Homo sapiens: one gene and its partner. The protein of the gene in region 2 interacts with the protein of the main gene of each other region in a biochemical or structural test. Each region holds a gene or a part of one and is shown on either strand. Other genes may lie near its edges.

What was found.
Region 1: the proteins of RAB7B (region 2) and RNF115 form a complex in vitro, tested with the Homo sapiens proteins (one study listed by BioGRID).

The regions. Positions count from the first base shown.
Region 1 is NC_000001.11:145,813,811-145,817,631, forward strand, and holds part of RNF115 (E3 ubiquitin-protein ligase RNF115), read right to left. Parts: intron 1-3,821. UniProt on the Homo sapiens protein: E3 ubiquitin-protein ligase that catalyzes the 'Lys-48'- and/or 'Lys-63'-linked polyubiquitination of various substrates and thereby plays a role in a number of signaling pathways including autophagy, innate immunity, cell proliferation and cell death.
Region 2 is NC_000001.11:205,996,789-206,000,609, forward strand, and holds part of RAB7B (ras-related protein Rab-7b), read right to left. Parts: intron 1-3,821. UniProt on the Homo sapiens protein: Controls vesicular trafficking from endosomes to the trans-Golgi network (TGN). Acts as a negative regulator of TLR9 signaling and can suppress TLR9-triggered TNFA, IL6, and IFNB production in macrophages by promoting TLR9 lysosomal degradation.

The DNA of each region.
Region 1 (3,821 bases), about 60 Mb from region 2:
TCTATCTATCCCAGGGTTTCTCAACCTCAGCCCTCTTACCTTTTTGGGCCCAATATAATTCTTTGTTTTGAGGGGTCTATCCTGTGCACTGCAGCATGTTCAGCAGCATCTCTGGCCTCCACCCACTGCATGACAGTAGCAACCCTCCTCCAGCCCCTAGTTCCAAAAATCAAAAATGTCTACAGGCTGGGTGTGGTGGCTCACACCTACCATCCCAATACTTTGGGAGGCCGAAGCAGGACTGCTTGAGGCCAGGAGTTTGACACCAGCCTAGGCAACACAGTGAGACTCTGTCTCTACAAAAAATTAAAAAATTAGCCGGGTGTGGTGGTACAGCTAGTTGGGAGGCTGAGGTGGGAGGATTGCTTGAGCCCAGGAGGTGGAAGCCGCAGTGAGCCGTGATCATGCCACTGCACTCCAACCTGGGCAACAAAGTCAGACTCTGTCTCCAAAAAAAAGATAAAAAATTGTCTACAGACTTTGCCAAATGTTCCCTGGGAAACAAAACTACCTGAAATTGAAAACCACTGCTCTAGGCTATCTCATTTATTGCTCAGTAGGATGTGAAGAGATCCAACCTGGCCAACATGGTGAAACCCTCGTCTCTACTAAAAATACAAAAATTAGCCAGGCGTGGTGGCAGGCACCTGTAATCCCAGCTACTTGGGAGGCTGAGGCAGGAGAATCACTTGAAACTGTAAGGCAGAGGATGCAGTGAGCCGAGATCGTGCCACTGCACTCCAGCCTGGGTGAAAGAGGGAAACTCCGTTTAAAAAAAAAAAAAAGAGGCAACTAAACATAAAGAAATACAAAGTGTTAGCACATCTAGTTGGTACTTCCCCCGAAAATACAAAAAATTTCTTCTGCAGTGAGTTCAATTTTCAGATTTTTTTCTTCCTTATACTGAAAAAGTCCCACAAATTTCCCCAATATATACATTTATATTTATCAGTAGAATTACAAGGATAAACTAGCCTCTACCTATAAGAATACATATTTATTTCTAGATATTGCAGTGAATATATGTACTTCACTGTACATTCAAATTTCACATGGTAGCACCTACATTTTGTACCACTGTAGCCTTTTAAAGGCGTCAAAACACTGAAGTCATCACTTTTTAAATATAATTACTGGGTGTTCAACTCATATCAATCATTCAATTAAAAAATATTTAATTAGCAACTGCTATATAGCACCAGATAGACATCTCTCTGGGACCTTTCTAAGAATCATGCAACTTAGAAAGGTCAGCTGAGCTTAAACGGTCACAAAGTCTTTAAGAAATCTGCTTTTTAGCTACTTTTATTATGGGTGGTTTGAACATTTTCCTGTATTAGAGTTATTGCAAGTACAATACAATGATGAATGCCTTCTCTAGCACCTGGTAGAGCCAAACTAGATAACATTACTTATTGATAAGGAAAACATTTTATTAGATCAAAGAAGATGATAAAATAAGTAGAGGGAGAGAAGCCTACTACATAGTTTCTTCAGGTGGAGCCTGAAAGCGAGCAGTTCTTAACCTGATCTCTTCATCTGGATTTAGGAAGATACCCTGATCTCCATAAAATACTTAAGAACCACCCTAGTCTCATCAATACCAAAAGTAGGTTACTCTGCATATGATTTATCTCACCTGTTTAATGATGACTCTACCAGATTTAATCACATAAGGTAACATTCCCTGACCTTGATTTAATGGGGAAAGACGGATGGTAGGGTGTAGGAATGGAATAACACCTTTACACTCCATGACACAGCCCTCTGTGGTGTACTACCCAGTCATTCATCATCAATGTAGCACACTAACTCCATTAGTCTTGGCTTCACATTGTCTCTCAATAAGATAGGTAAGGTAAGAGTTTCTGCTATGGTTTTGAAAATAATAATCTGAAGTTACTTTAAGTATTTATTCTATAATCTGATGACCAAAAAATCTACAATGGCATTTTACCCAATCCTACAGAAACTTAAAATCCTGAGGCTCCAGACTATATAATCGAAATCTCTGATTTTAAAATCCAAGTTTAGTACTCACAAAATTTTACTAAAGTTATTTTCACTGTAAATAGGAAAACACTTTTAATAAGGAGAAAGAAATTCCTAAACCAATACTCACTTGGAATGGAGACTTTTTTGAAACCTAACAGAAAACAATGCCACTAAATATGTTTTCATTTTAAAATTCCCTTCATGATTTCTCCTTATTTCTTAATATCCTCTTTCCAAATGAACCTTTTGTCCTCTTTTTGAATGGTTTTTTTTTTTTTTGAGATGGAGTCTCGCTCTTTTTGCGAGTGCAATGGCACGATCTCAGCTCACTGCAAGCTCCGCCTCCTGGGTTTTCAAGCGATTCTCCTGCCTCAGCCTCCCGAGCCCAGCTCAAATCACTAAATTGCTTAGATTAGAGGCGCCCACCACCACGCCAGGCTAATTTTTGTATTTTTAGTAGAGACAGGGGTTTCACCATGTTGGCCAGGCTGGTTTTGAAGTCCTGACCTCAGGTGATCCGCCCACCTTGGCCTCCCAAAGTGCTAGGATTACAGGCACTAGTCACCATGCCCGGCCCTCTTTTGTCCTCTTATCTGAGTGGATCCAACCCAAAGACACACAAAGCTAAAATTGATCAGGATTAGCAGTAAGGAGTGTTATTCTGTCAAATTAAATGAATTCAGCCTACATGTGGCTTTAAAAAAAAAGGTGAAATAATAAAGTAATTAAATTTTAAAAAGAAGAGAAGAGTTATTAAACCTTGCAACCTAGTCCCGTTGAACACAATTATGGCTCTGAAGCAGACCTTCCCATTGAATGGGTGAAGAAACCTAGTGAGAGCTCATTAAAAGCTGATGTAAACTCAATACCCAGCCTCTGGTGTTCAGTGAGGACAGCACTCATAGATGATGGGTTCTTTCTTTCTTTTTCTTTTTCTTTTCTTTTCTTTTTTCTCTCCTCTCTCCCCTCTCTCTTCTCTCTCATCCAGACTGGGTCTCTGTTGCCCAGGCTGGAGTACAGTGGCACAACCATAGCTCACTGTAACCTCAAATATCCTGGGCTCAAGTAATTCTTCCACCTCAGCCTCCCAAGTAGCTAGGACTACAAGCACATGCCACCATACCCAGCTAATTTTTATTTTTTTTGTTGAGACAGGGTCTTGCTATGTTATCCAGGCTGGGAGAACATTTTAAACAAAGGGAGACAGAGGTCTAAAAATAGATAATGCATAGGAGAATGGTGAGGTAAATGCTATGGCCAAGGCACAGGGCGTGTGGAGGAATGAGTTGGGTTTTTGAAGTTGATTAGATTAAATCATGGAGTCTTTTTCTTTTTTGAGATAAGCTCTTGCTCTGTCACCCAGACTGGAGTGTAATGGCACAATCACAGCTCACTGCAGCCTCGACCTCCCGGGCTTGAGCAATCTTCCCCGACTCAGCCTCCTGAGTAGCTAGGACCACAGACACACACCACCACCCCTGGCTAATTTTTTTAATTTTTGTAGAGATAGGGTCTCACTTTGTTGCCCAGGCTAGTGCCAAACTCCTGGGCTCAAGCAATCCTCTCCTGCCTTGGGTTCCCAAAGTGTTGGTATAACAGGTGTGAGCCACAGCATGCCCCAGTGAGGGATGGTTCTTGGTATCCAACTATCACAAGAGTCAGTACCCTCTTTGTTTACTTTGTTTTTATAAAATTTATCCATATCTGATTTTAACTGGGGTATTAAGCCTTTTTATATATTGACTATAAATGGTTTTTAGGTTTTAGGTCCTTCATTTTGCTCTTTGTTTTCTACACATATTTTTTTTGATTTTAGGTTTGGGGGC
Region 2 (3,821 bases):
GGAAGTAAACACATCCTTCTTTACATGGCAGCAGGGGAGAGAAGTGTAGAGCAAAGTGAGGAAAAGCCCCTTATAAAACCATCAGATCTTCTGAGAACTCACTCACTATTATAAGAACAGCATGGGGAAACCACTCCCATGATCTAATCACCTCCCACAAGGTCTCTTCCCCAACACATGGGAATTACAATTCAGATTACAATTCAAGATGAGATTTTGGGTGGGGACACAGCCAAACCATATCATAGACCAAAGGCGATTTGAAGCTCTACTCAGAGCTGTTTGTCCTAGGACCTGGAGTTGGTGGCACTGGAACTTCTGCTCTAACCCAGGAATGCTGGGTTGGCATGGTGAGAAATGGGTCTTCTTGATGGTTCACACGTTCATGCAGCAAATGCCTACATGCCTACCACATGCAAAGCCTTGCACTAGACACTGGGAACAGCACAGAGATGGAGCAAATAGGAACCCACCACACGGAGTCACCAAGGAAGAAAGGACAGTGGCTGAGTGATGACACCAGAGAGAAAGTACACAGCACCGCAGGAGAGGCACAGGGAAAGTGCTTGAGAATTCAGCAGAACTAGGTCCTGAAGAAATGAAGCATGTGGTTGGGGAGGGAATGAAATAACCAAAGCCTTGGGAAGAGATGAATGGGGAAAGTGGGCGATTTGCTTCAGGGAAGGGTGAGGTGAAAGGTGTAAAGGGAGGAAAGGCTGGAAAGGAAGCAAGATTAAGACGGGCTGTAAATATCTGACCAAAGATCCTGGCACTGACTCATTCATTCATTCATTCATTCACTCAGCAAACATTTCCTATATTCCAACAAAGAAGGCAATTCAAGGCTTGAACCTGGGCTGGCATTTTGTAATGGATGCTGCTGTCCACGAGGGAAATCAGCCAAGAGAGAAATGGTTCAGAAACCCCTGAAAAAGCATGGCTCTCGAAGTATTTGTTATCACTTTGGAAGGGTCCTAGGAGCAAAGGGAAGCTGTTTCCTAAAGGCATTGATACAACGTGCTAACTTAGCTTTAAAAAGCAACACAATGCCTTAGAAAGAGAGTCAGAACCAAAGGCAGGCAGGAAGAAGCGGGAGAAGAGGCAGCACTGGCTGAGCCCCTGCAGTGGGCTGTGCTAAGTATTCTACCGAGGGCAGGCCATCTTCACTATTACCCTCTGAGACAAGTACAACCAAGCTCCAAGAAGCTGAGTAATCACAACTCACCCAAGCCTGCACAGGGAGTAAATGGAAGAGCTAGTGTTTGAATCAAAGGCTGAGAAGGCAGGCTGGGTGCCGTGTCTCAAGCCTGTAATCCCAGCACTTTGGGAGGCCAAGGTGGGCGGATCATGAGGTCAGGAGTTCGAGACCAGCCTGGTCAACATGGTGAAACCCCATCTCTATTAAAAATACAAAAAAATGAGCCAGGCTTGTTGGCTCACACCTGTAATCCCAGCTACTTAGGAGGCTGAGGCAGGAGAATCACTTGAACCCGGGAGGCAGAGGTTGCAGTGAGCCGAGATCATGCCACTGCCCTCCAGCTTGGGTGACAGAGCAAGACTCGGTCTCAAACAAACAAATAAACAAACAAAAAATGCTGAGAAGGCTTTCCTGTGTCATGCCTCCTAATCACCAGAGTTTGAACCCATGGAATCTGTGTGCACAGGAATCTAGGGCACTGGGCTCAGATTTGGTGAATTTCAACAAAACCCTAGGAGAGTTGGAGGAGGCAGAGAAAGGCTGCCAAAGTGGCAGAGAGATACAGTGGGGGTGGAGAGAACTGGAGCTGCCCAACAGGAGCTATGTGTGAGGACTGGCCACAGGGTCAGAGACGCGGCATGCTAGGCAGAGGGCAATGCTTTCACACGCTGTCACACGACCATGCAGCAGGGCTGGAGTACGTCTCACGTTACAAGCTAACATTTGTTTGGTGGGCACTGTGCTGAGGGCTTTGTGAATACACAAATACACAATAGCATTGTCAGGGGTAAACAATACGTTATTATAATACATTGAACACATAGAATACAATATTCATAGCATATTGTGATACATTTACTGGCACAAATTAAGGACTCAAGAAATGCTAGCTATTTTATTGCACACAAAGATAGCCTGTGAGATTGATACTATTATTATCTGTTTTACCATTGAAGAAACAGATGTTTAGAGCAGTTAAGCAGTTCAGCCTTAAAGACAGAAAGCCCGCACGTGTTAGAGCAGGGTTTGAAGCTGGGATTGGAGTCCAGGCCTAACCCCAGAGCCAGCTCTCTTAACTACTGGGTTCTACTGTCTGTAAAACTAGAATGAGACTCACACGCCTTGCTCCATAGTGCCCCTGTTAGAGAGCTCAGGGGCTGGATGGGTGAGGGTTTGATGCAGGGAGGCCAGCGGCGTGCTTAGGAAGGGAAAGCTGGGGCAGGACGAGGAAGGTAGAAGGTGTGTGTGAGACATATAACAGGTCGCTATGCACAATGTGTAAGGCACTCATACAGATAATAAAAGGCAACACACCTATCAAAAATGGGCAAAGAACGTGAACAAGTTACCAATTGAAATCTTATAAAGAATTAGTAAGCTTTGAAAAGATACTCAACCTTACTAACTATCAAGGAAATTAACATTTCAAAATACCATTTATTTTCACCCAGTAGAGTGGCAAAATTTTAAAAAGATTGACAACAATATTTAGGGTTGGCAAGTGTGTTAGGGAAACACTCTTATATATTGTTGATAGAGTATGAATTAGCACAGTCTTTTTGGAAGGTAATTGGACAATATCAAAACGTAATATGCACACAGCCTAGGTTCTCATTCTAGGAATCTGTCCTACAGAAATACTCATGCATATGCTCAAACACATATTTGTACAGATGATTACTAAAGCATTGGGGTAATCTAACTGTCCATCAATATGACACTCTCTACATCAATTCTGATCCATTAATACTCTGGAACAATTAGCTGTTTTATTATTTATTTATTTATCTGTCTATTTAGAGACAGGGCCTCATTCTTTTGCCCAGGCTGGAGTGCAGTGGCATGATCATAGCTCCCTGCCACCTCAAATTCCTGGGCTGAAGTGATCCTCCCCCCTCAACCTCCCAGGTAGCTGGGACTACAGGTGTATGCCACCATGCCAGGCAGATTTTTTATTTTTCATTTTTTGTAGAGACAGGATCATGCTTTGTAGCCCCAGTTGGTATCAAACTCCTGGCTTCAAGTGATCCTCCCACCTAGGCCTCTCAAAATGTTGGCATTACAGGTGTGAGCCACCACGCCTGGCCAAGGGCAGTTTTAAAAAGATGAAATAATGAAGTGGGAAGCTACACGTGATGGCTTTAAGTAAGAAAAAAGAAAATCACTGAACGTTTTATATAGTGTGATAAGAAAGCTAAGGGGAGATATACACTAAATGATTCATAAGAGGGATGGGAAAGGTAGATTAGAGGCTAAGAGCTATCATTTTATGTTATATATGTTTTGTTTTAAAATTTGTTACACAAGCCTAAGTTGTTTTGTAATTTAAGAATATCAAATAATCACTTAACATTTCTTTAAAAAGATGTGTGGATGGCAGCCCAAAGCAATTTGAGCGTGATTTTCAGATAGGACAAATTACTTCTGTGAGCAAGAGAGTGAGGATGTCTGGTGCCATGGAGTGATCATGAGTTTGGGACTCAGAATTCTCATCCTGGCTCCACACATTTGTGGCCTTGGATGGGTTACTGAACCTTGGGGCGTCTGTTCCCTCATGGGTAAAATGGACATCACTCGTGGCTGTGGCTTCCTCTGCAGGTGACATGTGTCATGATCTTATAAC